Linked DNA regions of Homo sapiens: region 2 is linked to region 1. Evidence: fine-mapped expression QTL. Tissue or cell type: lymphoblastoid cells. Region 1 holds a variant in brackets; the other region holds the start of a gene. All regions are shown on one strand. Distances are between the middles of the regions.

Region 1 (5,554 bases):
CCCAGGAGGTCAAGGCTGCAGTGAGCCATGATCATGCTTATGAATAACCACTGCACTCTAGTTTGGGCAACATAGTGAGACCTCATCTCTAATAATAATAATAATAGCAGATGGTAATGAGTGCTGAGAAGGAAAGGAAACAGAGAGATGGGATAGAGAGGAGATAGGACTTTGGGATTTCTTCTGCTAAGGAGGGTTGTGAGTAAGGAGGAAGGTGATCTGATTTAGGTTTTGAATGACCACCTCTAGCCACTGTGCTGAAAAGGGGACAGGAGGGAAGGCGACAGGAAGATGGGGAAGGCGTCCACTTTCATTATACTGGTGGGAGCTGAGTGAGGATGGAAGCTCTTATAGCCTCCACTTCCTCCTCAATCAGTCTCACCTCTTGGGGTCGCGGTTTGTATCATCAATAACAGCATGTGAAACTCAGTTTCCTCATCTCTCAAAGAAGCTTGTAGTCTGTAAAATAATGGAAGCCAGGTGTGTAGCAAGTATCTGCACATAGTAGCTGCATCCTGAGTGTTGAGTGTTTGAGTGGACTCATGCATATAGATGGGTTATAGGGGAAAGAGAATGGATGGTGGATGGATCGAAGTAAGGAAGGATGAATGGATGGATGGATAGATGGATGGATGGATGGATGAGGGGTGGATGGATAGTGAATGGAAGATGGATGACCAGTGGATGGGTGGGTGAGGGATGGATAGATAGGATAGCAGAGGGTGTTTAAATGAATGGATGGATGGATGAATAGCACATGGTTAAATGGATGGAAGGCTGTATATGAGTGCTGGTCAAATAATCAATGAATATGAATGGTAAATGGATGGTGGACACTGACTTGGAAAAATGGATGTGTGGATGGATGGAGCATAGATAAATGGATAGATATCAGATAGTGGATGGTGGATATCTAAATGATTGTATGGATGGATGAATGGGTGGGGCCGATGGATGGATAAGTGGATGGATGAATGAATTGATAAGTGGATGGATGAATGAATGAGTGGATGGATGACTGGTTTGATGGATGGATAAGTGAATGGATGGATGGATAAGTGGATGGATGGATGAGTGGAAGTATGGATGGATGGATGGGTGGATGGATAAGTGGACAGATGGATGAATGGGTGGATGAATGGATGAATGGATAAATGGATGGATGGATGGATGGGTAAGTGGGTGGATGGATGAATGGGCATATGGATGGATGGGTGGATGGATGGATGAGTGGACAAATGGGTGAATGGGTGGATAAATGGATGAATGGATGAATGGATAAATGGGTGGATAGATGGATGGATGGGCTGATGGATACATGAGCTGATGGATGAATTGATGGATAGATGGAGAGTGGATAAGTAAATGGATGTAAATGGGTGGGCAAGTAGATGGATGATGGTTAGGTACTCACATAGATTTTGGGTCCCTGAAAGCTGGGTCCTTGTCTCATTTAAGCGGCTCTCCCTCCCTGTCCTCACTGACCTCCCCCCACCAGCTCCACTTCCTGAACCCTTTATCTTCCTGCTCCCCTTCATTCCAGGTCTGACTGGTTTCTCTACGACTGCCGCCTCCTCAGACATGTGGCCCTTGGCCTTTTCTGCTGTGGGATCTCCGTCTATTTAGCAGGTGTGTGCTGGAATAGAACGTGGGGCATGGGACCCTGGGCTGGGTAGAGAGCAGCAATGGTCCCCTAACTGGGATCAACTCTGCAGACAGCCTCCTTGAGTTCAACTCCAGGCTCTGACACTTCTTTGCTTTGGTGCCTTGGGCAAAGTCTCTCTGTGCCTTGATTTCCTCATCAGTACAATGGGAATAACTGTCATTACCTCACAGAATCACTTGAGGAGATTCTGAGATTTAATCCTCATGAAAGCCCATAGGACCAGGCATAGTAGCTCACATCTGTAATCCCAGCAATATGGGAGACTGAGGTAGGAGGATTGCTTGAGGCCAGGAGTTTGAGACCAGCCTGGGCAACATAACAAAACCCCATCTCTACAAAAAAAAAAAAAACTATATATATATATAATATATATTTATTAAATATATAAATATATATTTATATTTATATGTTTATATTAATATATATTTATATAATATATTTATATTTATATATTATATATCTATATATAGACTTGGTGTGGTGGTACACACCTGTAGTCCCAGCTCCTCGGGAGGCTAAGGTGGGAGGATCACTTGAGCCCGAAGGTTGAGGCTGCAGTGAGCCATGATCACCCCACTGCACTGCACTCCAGCCTGGGTGATACAGCGAGACCCTATCTCATTAAAAAAAAAAAAAAAAAAAAGCCCGTGGATGGCATCTGACTCCAGCAGGGACTCCACAAATGCTAGCTGTCATCAGAACACTTCTGATTCATCAGTTTTATAATTTGTTTGAACAAAAATTTTCATGGCCTGCGTGGTGTCTAAAGATAGCATTTTGGCCAGGCGCAGTGGCTCACGCCTGTAATCCCAGCACTTTGAGGGGCCGAGGCTGGTGGATCACCTGAGGTCAGGAGTTTGATACCAGCCTGGCCAACATGGTGAAACCCCATCTCTACTAAAAATACAAAAAAATTAGCCGGGCATGGTGGTGGGCGCCTATAATATCAGCCACTCAGGAGGCTGAGGCAGGGGAATCACTTGAACCAGGGGGCAGAGGTTGCAGTGAGCCAAGATCGTGCCACTGCACTCCAGCCTGGGCAACAAGGGCAAAACCCCGTCTCAAAAAAAAAAAAAAAAAAAAAAAAAAAGATAGCATTTTACAGGTTGGAATGAGTGAAAGCTGTTTTGGTTACAAATATCAATCTCCAGCTCAAAAATGGCTTGAGAAAAAAAAAAAAAA[G/AG]GATACCCCAGATGCTGGAACGCATCACACTGTCCTTCCTTCCTGATTTGTAATAACTTTTCTTCAATCAACTTTCTTTCATCCATCCGGGCTGGTAAAGGAATGAAATCATTAAGTGTCTTTCAAGAGACTCCTAACGCCTTATATTTGGTTTTAATCTTGAAACAAATGTGTTGATGATGCTGCGGACTCAATGCTGAATCATATATAAGTCCCTGCCAGCCCTGTAAACAATCTGTTTTACAGGAAGAAAAAATATCCTACTGAATGAAAAACAGGATTTGCTATTACTGTTTTTTTTTCATAGTCCCACCACAGAAAATAGAAATTTAAAAAGATATTTAGGCCGGGCGCGGTGGCTCATGCCTATAATCCCAGCACTTTGGGAGGCCAAAGTGGGTGAATCACTTGAGGGTAGGAGTTCAAGACCAGCCTGGCCAATATGCTGAAACCGCCCCCCCACCCCACCATTAAAAATTCAAAAAAATTAGCTGGGCCTGGTGGCAGCTGCCTGTAATCCCAGCTACTCGGGAGACTGAGGTGGGAGAATCACTTGAACCTGAGAGGTGGAGGTTTCAGAGAGCCAAGATCGTGCAACTGCACTCCAGCCTGGGTGACAGACTGAAACTTCATCTCAATAAATAAATAAATAAATAAATAAATAAATGTTTAAAAAGATATATTAAAAAAATTTTTTTTGATGCGGAGTCTCGCTCTGTCGCCCAGGCTGGAGTGCAGTGGTGTGATCTCGGCTCACTGCAAGCTCCGCCTCCTGGGTTCATGCCACTCTTCTTCCTCAGCCTCCTGAGTAGCTGGGACTACAGGTGCCCACCACCACGCCCAGCTAATTTTTTGTATTTTTAGTAGAGACGGGGTTTCACCGTGTTAGCCAGGATGGTCTACGATCTCCTGACCTCAGGTGATCCACCAACCTCGGCCTCCCAAAGTGCTGGGATTACAGGCGTGAGCCACCACGCCCGGCCCTGAGCCACCACGCCAGGCCCTCAAAATATTTTTAATGAGATGTGAGCCTAAGGCTCACTGTGGGAATTTATATATGTGAAGTGCACGGAACACTGCATAACTTTTGTTGTTTGACTTAATGAAATGCTCCAGAAGTAGTTTTTTTTTTAAAAAAAGGAGAAGGGATGGATGACTTGTGCATCTGAAATTGTCAGGGGAAGTTGGCTTCAGGTGTGGCTGGATCCAGGCACTCAAATTAGGTTATCAGAAATGCCTCTCAGCCGGGTGTGGTTGCTCACACCTGTAATCCCAGCACTTTGGGAGGCCGAGGCGAGTGGATCACTTGAGGTGGAGTTTGAGACCAGCCTGGGCAACATGGTGAAACTCCATCTCTACTAAGTATACAAAAATTAGCCAAACATTGTGGCATACCCCTGTAATCCCAGCTACTCCAGAGGCTGAGGCAGGAGAATTGTTTGAACCTGGGAGGCAGAGGTTGCACTGAGCCAAGATCATGCCACTGCACTCCAGCCTGGGCGACAGAGTGAGATGCCATCTAAAAAAAAAAAAAAAAGAAAGAAAAGAAAGAAATTAGCCAGGCATGGTGGTTCATGCCTGTAGACCCAGCTACTCAGGAGGCTGAAGGCAGGAGGATCGCTTGAACCCAGGGGGCGGAGGTTGCAGTGAGCCGAGATTGTGCCATTGCACAGCCTGGGTGACAGAGTGAGACTCTGTCTCAAAAATGATGTTGTTGATAATAATAATAATAATAAAAGAAAAAAGAAACAGAAATGCTTGTCACTTCACCTGTTCATCTGCTGTTCCCTGAATGGGCTTCTCTCTGAGAAAGATGCCTCTATCTGTAAGCACTTTTGACACGATGCCTGGAGCCTTGAGTCTTTGCACAGGCCAACAGAAATATTAAAGACCTAGGGAATAAGATATCCTCATTCTAAAATACAAGAACAATTACAAAAGGAAAAAAAAGGTAACATTATGTCAGCCTCACTAAGCGTAAAATTGAGAATTCATTCACCTCCCATTTAGATTGTTTTTGAGGCTAGGTGACCTCATTCAGCAAGAATTCCCAAGCACATCCAACCAATCATCCATTCATCGCTAGCTAGAACTAAAAGAATAATTACAAAATCCCTTTCAAAATGTTTCCAGCCAAAAAAAAAAAAAAAGTCCTTGGCCTTGCTTTCACATGTGGGACATCATGCAGTGTGATATCTTCCAAAGCAATAGTACAGAGCCAGAGAACGCGTATAAACAGCCTGGAAAGTGCCAAAAAAAAAAGTCCCCCATGTGTTCTGGGCCCCTCTCCTACCAATACCCTAGACGCTGCAGGAAAATCTATCTGTCCCAGTAGCCCAGGCTAAAGTCTCAGGGCTGACTCTGATAGGCTGAGCTTGGGCCATGTAATATTCCTCCACCAATCACTAACATCAGGGGAAGCAATTAATGCTCTGATTGGCTGAGCTTGGTCCAATGAGGACATCATTGATGCCAAAGTGGCTTAGTGATCCCAAATCCACTCTGCAGTGTAGAGATAGGGACCAAACCAGGGATTCTCCACTGAGACTGATTCTGGCCTCAGAGGAACTTTTGTCACTGCCTGGAGACATTTTTGGTGGTCGCCACAGAGTTGAGGGTGGGATGCTACTGACATCTAGTGGGTAAAAGCTGCTAAACGTCCTACGATGCACCACCACTAAGAATGGTGCCAACTGTATGCTGGAG
Region 2 (5,554 bases), 380 kb before region 1:
AGCCCCAGAGGGCCCCCTAATTTGGTAGAAATAGGGAGGGAGCTGCTCTGGGGTCAAGCAAGACTCGAGTTCCAGCCCAGGTTCTCTCCTGCCTAGGGTCAAGCATCCTTCCCTCTCTCAACCTCAGATTCCCTCCTTGGAAAAACAAAGCTATAAGACCCCCTAGGCATGAAGCGGGGGCCAAGCATCCACTGAACAAATAAATCCTGCTCTATTCTGGGTCCACCAGCCCCTGCTCACCCAGAGGGGACAACCGTGTTGGGGAGACAGAGCTTCGGATGGGACACCCCCAGCCCTGCGTGTCAGGCGCCTTGAGAAGACCTGGGCTCTGCTCAGCCTCCTGTGACCTTGGGCAAGTTTGGGGTCCTTTCTCTGTGCCTCAGTTTTCTTTTTTTCTTTTCTTTTCTTTCTTTTTGTCTGGTGAGGGGACGGAGTCTCTGTCCCCAGGCTGGTGTGCAGCGGCACCATCTCGGCTCACTGCAATCTCCACCTCCTGGGTTCAAGTGATTCTCCTGCCTCAGCCTCCCGAGTAGCTGGGATTATAGGCATGCACCACCACATCTGGCTAATTTTTGTATTTTTAGTAGAGACAGAGTTTCACCATATTGGGCAGGCTGGTCTCGAACTCTTGACCTCAAGTGATCCACCTGCCCCATCTTCCCAAAGTGCTTGCATTACAGGCATGAGCCACTGCACCTGGCCTGTGTGCCTCAGTTTTCTCATTTGTACAGTAATAGAAACAACAAAATTCTGAACATTTCTGGTCTTGGAAGATGCCCGCTGTCTTCCCCCCTGCCCCCCAGAAAAGGCAGGATTATTACTTTTCAGTTGATCTATTTCATCTCTTTAAACTGGTTAAGACAATAGCGAAGACTTGGCCGTGTGTGGTGCCTCACACCTGTAATCCCAGCATTTTGGAAGGCCGAGTAGGGAGAACCACTTGAGTTCTAGATGAGCCTGGGCAACATAGCAAGACCCCTGCCTCTACAATTAAAAAATTAAAAATGGCCGGGCGCGTTGGTGCACGCCTGTAATCCCAGCACTTTGGGAGGCCGAGGCGGGTGGATCACTTGAGGTCAGGAGTTTGAGATCAGCCTGGCCAACATGGTGAAACCCCGTCTCTGCTAAAAAATACAAAAATTAGCCAGGCTTGGTGGTGGGCACCTGTAATCCCAGCTACTCAGGAGGCTGAGGCAGGAGAATCGCTTGAACCCAGGAAGCAAAGGTTGCAGTGAGTCGAGATCGCACCACTGTACTCCAGCCTGGGTGACAGAGTAAGACTCTGTCTAAAAAGATAAAAATAAAAATTAAAAAATTAAAAATTAGCTGGGCATTGTATTGCAGGCCTGTAGTCCCAGCTACTCAGGAGGCAGAGGCTGAAGGATCGCTTGAGCCCAGGGGAATGAGGTTACAGTGAGCTATGATCCTGCCATTACAGGCCAACCCAGAGAGATCCTATGTCAAAAATGAATAAATACCCTGGTGTGGTCGCTCTCGCCTGTGATCCCAGGACTTTGGGAGGCTGAGGCGGGAAGATGACTTGAGTCCAGGAGTTTGAGACCAGCCTGGGCAACATGGCAAAACCCCATCTCTACAAAAAAAATACAAAAAATTAGCCGGGTGTGGTGGCGTGGGCCTGTAGTCCCAGCTACTCAGGAGGCTGAGGTGGGAGAATTGCTTGAGTCAGGGATAGGGAGGTGGCAGTGAGCCCATATCGTGCCACTGCACTCCAGCCAGGGTAACAGAGCAAGAACTCATCTCAAAAATAAAAAATAAAAATAGGTGGCTGGGCGTGGTGGCTTACACCTGTAATCCCAGCTACTTGGGAGGCTGAGGTGGGAGAATCACTTGAACCCAGGAGGTGGAGGTTGCAGTGAGCCGAGATCGCATCACTGCACTCCAGCCTGGAAGACAGAGCAAGACTTTGTCTCAATAATAATAATAAAAATAATAATAGTCCAGGCACAGCTCATGCCTGTAATCCCAGCATTTTGGGAGGCCGAGGCAGATGGATCGCTTGAGGTCAGGAGTTGGAGACCAGCCTGGCCAACATGGCGAACCCCAGTCTCTACTAAAAATAAAAAATAAAAAAAAAAAAATTAGCCAGGCATAGTGGTGCGCACCTGTAATCCCAGCTACTCAGGAGGCTGAGGCAGGAGAATCGCTTGAACCCGGGTGTCAGAAGTTGCAGTGAGCCGAGATCAAGTCACTGCACTCCAACCTGGGTGACAGAGTGAGACTCCATCTCAAAAAAAAAGAAGAAAAAAATAAAAAAGAAAGACTCGTTGCCCAGTGCTCCCTCTGGGAGAAGTACATCCAAGGCCCTGGCCCTGGGAGAAAGGCTCTGGCACTAACCCCACCCTTGACCTTTTTCCTGGGCGGTCCTGAAGAATGTTCTGTCCCTTCTCCAAGGCCCCCAGCTGGGACGGCCCAGGCGCCTATAAAGGGGGTCCCCGCTTGGCCCCGGCGCCACCCACCACCATGGACCCCCGTCTGCCCGCCTGGGCGCTGGTGCTGCTGGGCCCTGCCCTGGTGTTCGCGTTGGGCCCCGCGCCCACCCCAGAGATGCGTGAGAAGTTGTGCGGCCACCACTTCGTACGCGCGCTAGTGCGCGTGTGCGGGGGCCCCCGCTGGTCCACCGAAGCCAGGAGGCCTGCGACCGGAGGCGACCGTGAGTGGGGACGGGCAGGGACAGCGCTCTGGGAAGCCGAGGTGGGGCAGGTGCACGTAGGCGCAGATGCACACGTGCAGGGAGGTGGGCAGGTTTGCATGCATGTGCCCAGGGCTCACCTGCCGGCTGCGTGCACAGATCGTGGGTCCGCACTGGAGTGTGTGTGAACGCGCGTGTGAAAGTCCCCAGAGCCGTTAGCCAGGCGTGGTGGCTCACGCCTGCAATCCCAGCACTTTGGGAGGCTGAGGCGGGTGGATCCCCAGAGGTCAGGAGTTCGAGACCAGCCTGGCCAAAATGGTGAAACCCCATCTCTACTAAAAATAATTTTTAAAAAAATTAGCCGGGGATAATGATGCACATCTGTAATCCCAGCTACTTGGGAGGCCAAGGCAGGAGAATCGCTTGAACCCGGAAGGCAGAGGTTGCAGTGGGCCGATATCATGCCATTGCACTCCAGCCTGGGCGACAGAGTGAAACTCCGTCTCAAAAAAAAAAAAAAAAGAAAGTCCTCAGAGCATGAGTCCCCCTGAGGGGCCAGAAACAGAGTGAGGCAGGAGAGGTAGGCTCTTGCAAGTACATGGTGAGATCCTGTCTTAAAATTTCAATATTTTGATCTTCATGAATTTTTGCCTTAATTTTGCTTTGTTTGTTTGTTTTTTGAGACAGGGTCTCACTCTGACGCCCAGGCTGGAGTGCAGTGGTGAGATCTCGGCTCACTGCAGGCTCAACCTCCTGGGCTCAAACCATCCTCCTGCCTCAGCCTCTGGAGTGGCTGGGATACAGGTGCTGCCACCACACCCAGCTAATTTTTTTTTCTTTTTCGTAGAGAGGGAGTCTCACTCTGTTTCCCAGGCTGGTCTCAAACTCCTGAGCTCAAGTAATCCTCCCACCTTGACCTTCCAAAGTGTTGGGATTAGCGATGTGAGTCACTGTGTCCAGCTTTAAAAGTATTTAAAAGTATTGCTTTTGAAAAGTATTGCTTTTCACAATTATGTTACTTTATTTTATTATTTTATTTTTATTTATTTATTTTGAGACATAGCCTCGCTCTGTCACCCAAACCAGAGTGCTGTGACGTGATCTCGTCTCACTGCAACCTCTGCCTCCCGGGTTCCAGCAATTTTCCTGCCTCAGCCTCCAGAGTAGCTGGGACTGCGGGCACGCACCACCACACCTGGCTAATTTTTGTATTTTGTTTGTTTGTTTGAGATGGAGTCTCGCTCTGTCACCCGGGCTGAAGTGCAGTGGCACGATCTCAGCTCACTGCAACCTCCGCCTCCTGAGTTCAAGCAATTCTCCTGCCTCAGCCTTCCAAGTAGCTGGGATTACAGGCCACTCCCCAGGTCACCCACTACCATGCACAGCTGATTTTTTTTTTTTTTTGTATTTTTAGTAGAGACAGGTGAACAGGTGAAACAACAGGTTTCACCATGTTGGCCAGTCTGGTCTTGTTTTGTTTTGTTTTGTTTTGTTTTGACATTGAGTCTCGCTCTGTCCCCCAGGCTGGAGTGCAGTGGTGTGATCTCGGCTCACTGCAAGCTCCGTCTCCCGGCTTCACGCCATTCTCCTGCCTCAGCCTCCTGAGTAGCTGGGACTGCAGGCGCCTGCCACCAAGCCCAGCTAAATTTTTTGTATTTTTAGTAGAGATGGGGTTTCACCATGTTAGCAAGGATGGTCTCAATCTCCTGATCTCGTGATCCACCTGCCTCGGCCTCCCAAAGGGCTGGGATTACAGGCATGAGCCACTGTGCCCGGGCCAGGCTGGTCTTGAACTCCTGACCTCAGGTGATCTGCCCGCCTCAGCCTCCCAAAGTGTTGGGATTACAAGCGTGAGCCGCTGTGCCTGGCCTTTTTACAAATATTTTAAATTTTATTTTAAAAGTATTGCATTAAAATACTTACCTTGCTGGATGTGGTGGCTCATGCCTGTAATCCCTGCTACTCAGGAGGCTAGGAGGGAAGATCACTTGAGGCCAGGAGTTTGAGACCAACCTGGGCAATATGAGACTCAGCCTGAGACAGAGACCCTTGTCTCAAAAAAGGGAAAAATATTAATATTATTATTATTATATATATATATTTTGAGACAGGGTCTCACTCTATCACCCAGGCTGGAGTGCAGTGGCGTGATCTCGGCTCATTGCAACCTCTGCCTCCCAGACTCAAGCAATCTGCCCACCTCAGCCTCCTGAGTAGCTGTGACTAGCTACTCTCAGGCTGGTGAGACCAGCCTGGCCAACGTGGCGAAACCTCGTCTCTACTAAAAATACAAAAATTAGCCGGGCGTTGTGGCGCACACCTGTAGTCTCAGCTACTCAGGAGGCTGAGGCAGGAGAATCACTTGAACCCGGGAGGTGGAGGTTGCAGTGAGCCAAGATCACGCCACTGCACTCCAGCTTGGCAACAGAGCGAGACTCCATCTCAAAAAAAAAAAGCTGATGCTGACATTTGGGGATGTATATGGTAGTGGGGCTGTCCTGTATATTGTAGGGTGTTAGATAACATCTCTGTCTTCTGCCCCCTAATGCCATGAATAGCCTCACACCCCATCCAAGTTGTGACATCTAAAACTGTCCCCAGACAAGTATCCCCTGGAAACAAAATCACCCTGGTTTGAGAACCACTGGTGTCAATTGTAAACTGCAGATTGGGTAGAGGGTAAACAACCCTCTAAATTTTCATAAGTCCTTTTTTTTTTCTTTTGAGACAGTCTTGCTCTGTCACTCAGGCTGGAGTGCAGTGGCACGATCTCGGGTCACTGCAGCCTTGCCTTCCCAGGCTCAAGCGATCCTCCCACCTCAGCCTCCCAAGTAGCTGGGACTACAGGCATGCAGAATTATGCCCAGCTAATTTTTGTATTTTCTGCAGAGATGAGGTTTTGCT

Evidence for each region. PIP is the estimated chance that this variant, and not a neighbour inherited with it, causes the effect.
Region 2: INSL3 starts here. The variant in region 1 is fine-mapped to the expression of INSL3 in lymphoblastoid cells (CAP, PIP 0.95).

The regions. Positions count from the first base shown.
Region 1 is chr19:17,441,274-17,446,827 of GRCh38, reverse strand. TMEM221 (transmembrane protein 221) reads left to right here. Exons shown (of 3, transcript NM_001190844.2): 2 at 1,544-1,629. Among named protein-coding and RNA genes, the nearest start is that of TMEM221, 4.6 kb to the left of the region's middle. RefSeq lists a silencer at 5,459-5,508. The variant G/AG (reference allele first, on the strand shown) is at 2,849.
Region 2 is chr19:17,818,434-17,823,987 of GRCh38, reverse strand. It overlaps INSL3 (insulin like 3), which reads left to right and starts at 2,469. Exons shown (of 2, transcript NM_005543.4): 1 at 2,469-2,671. The coding sequence starts at 2,482.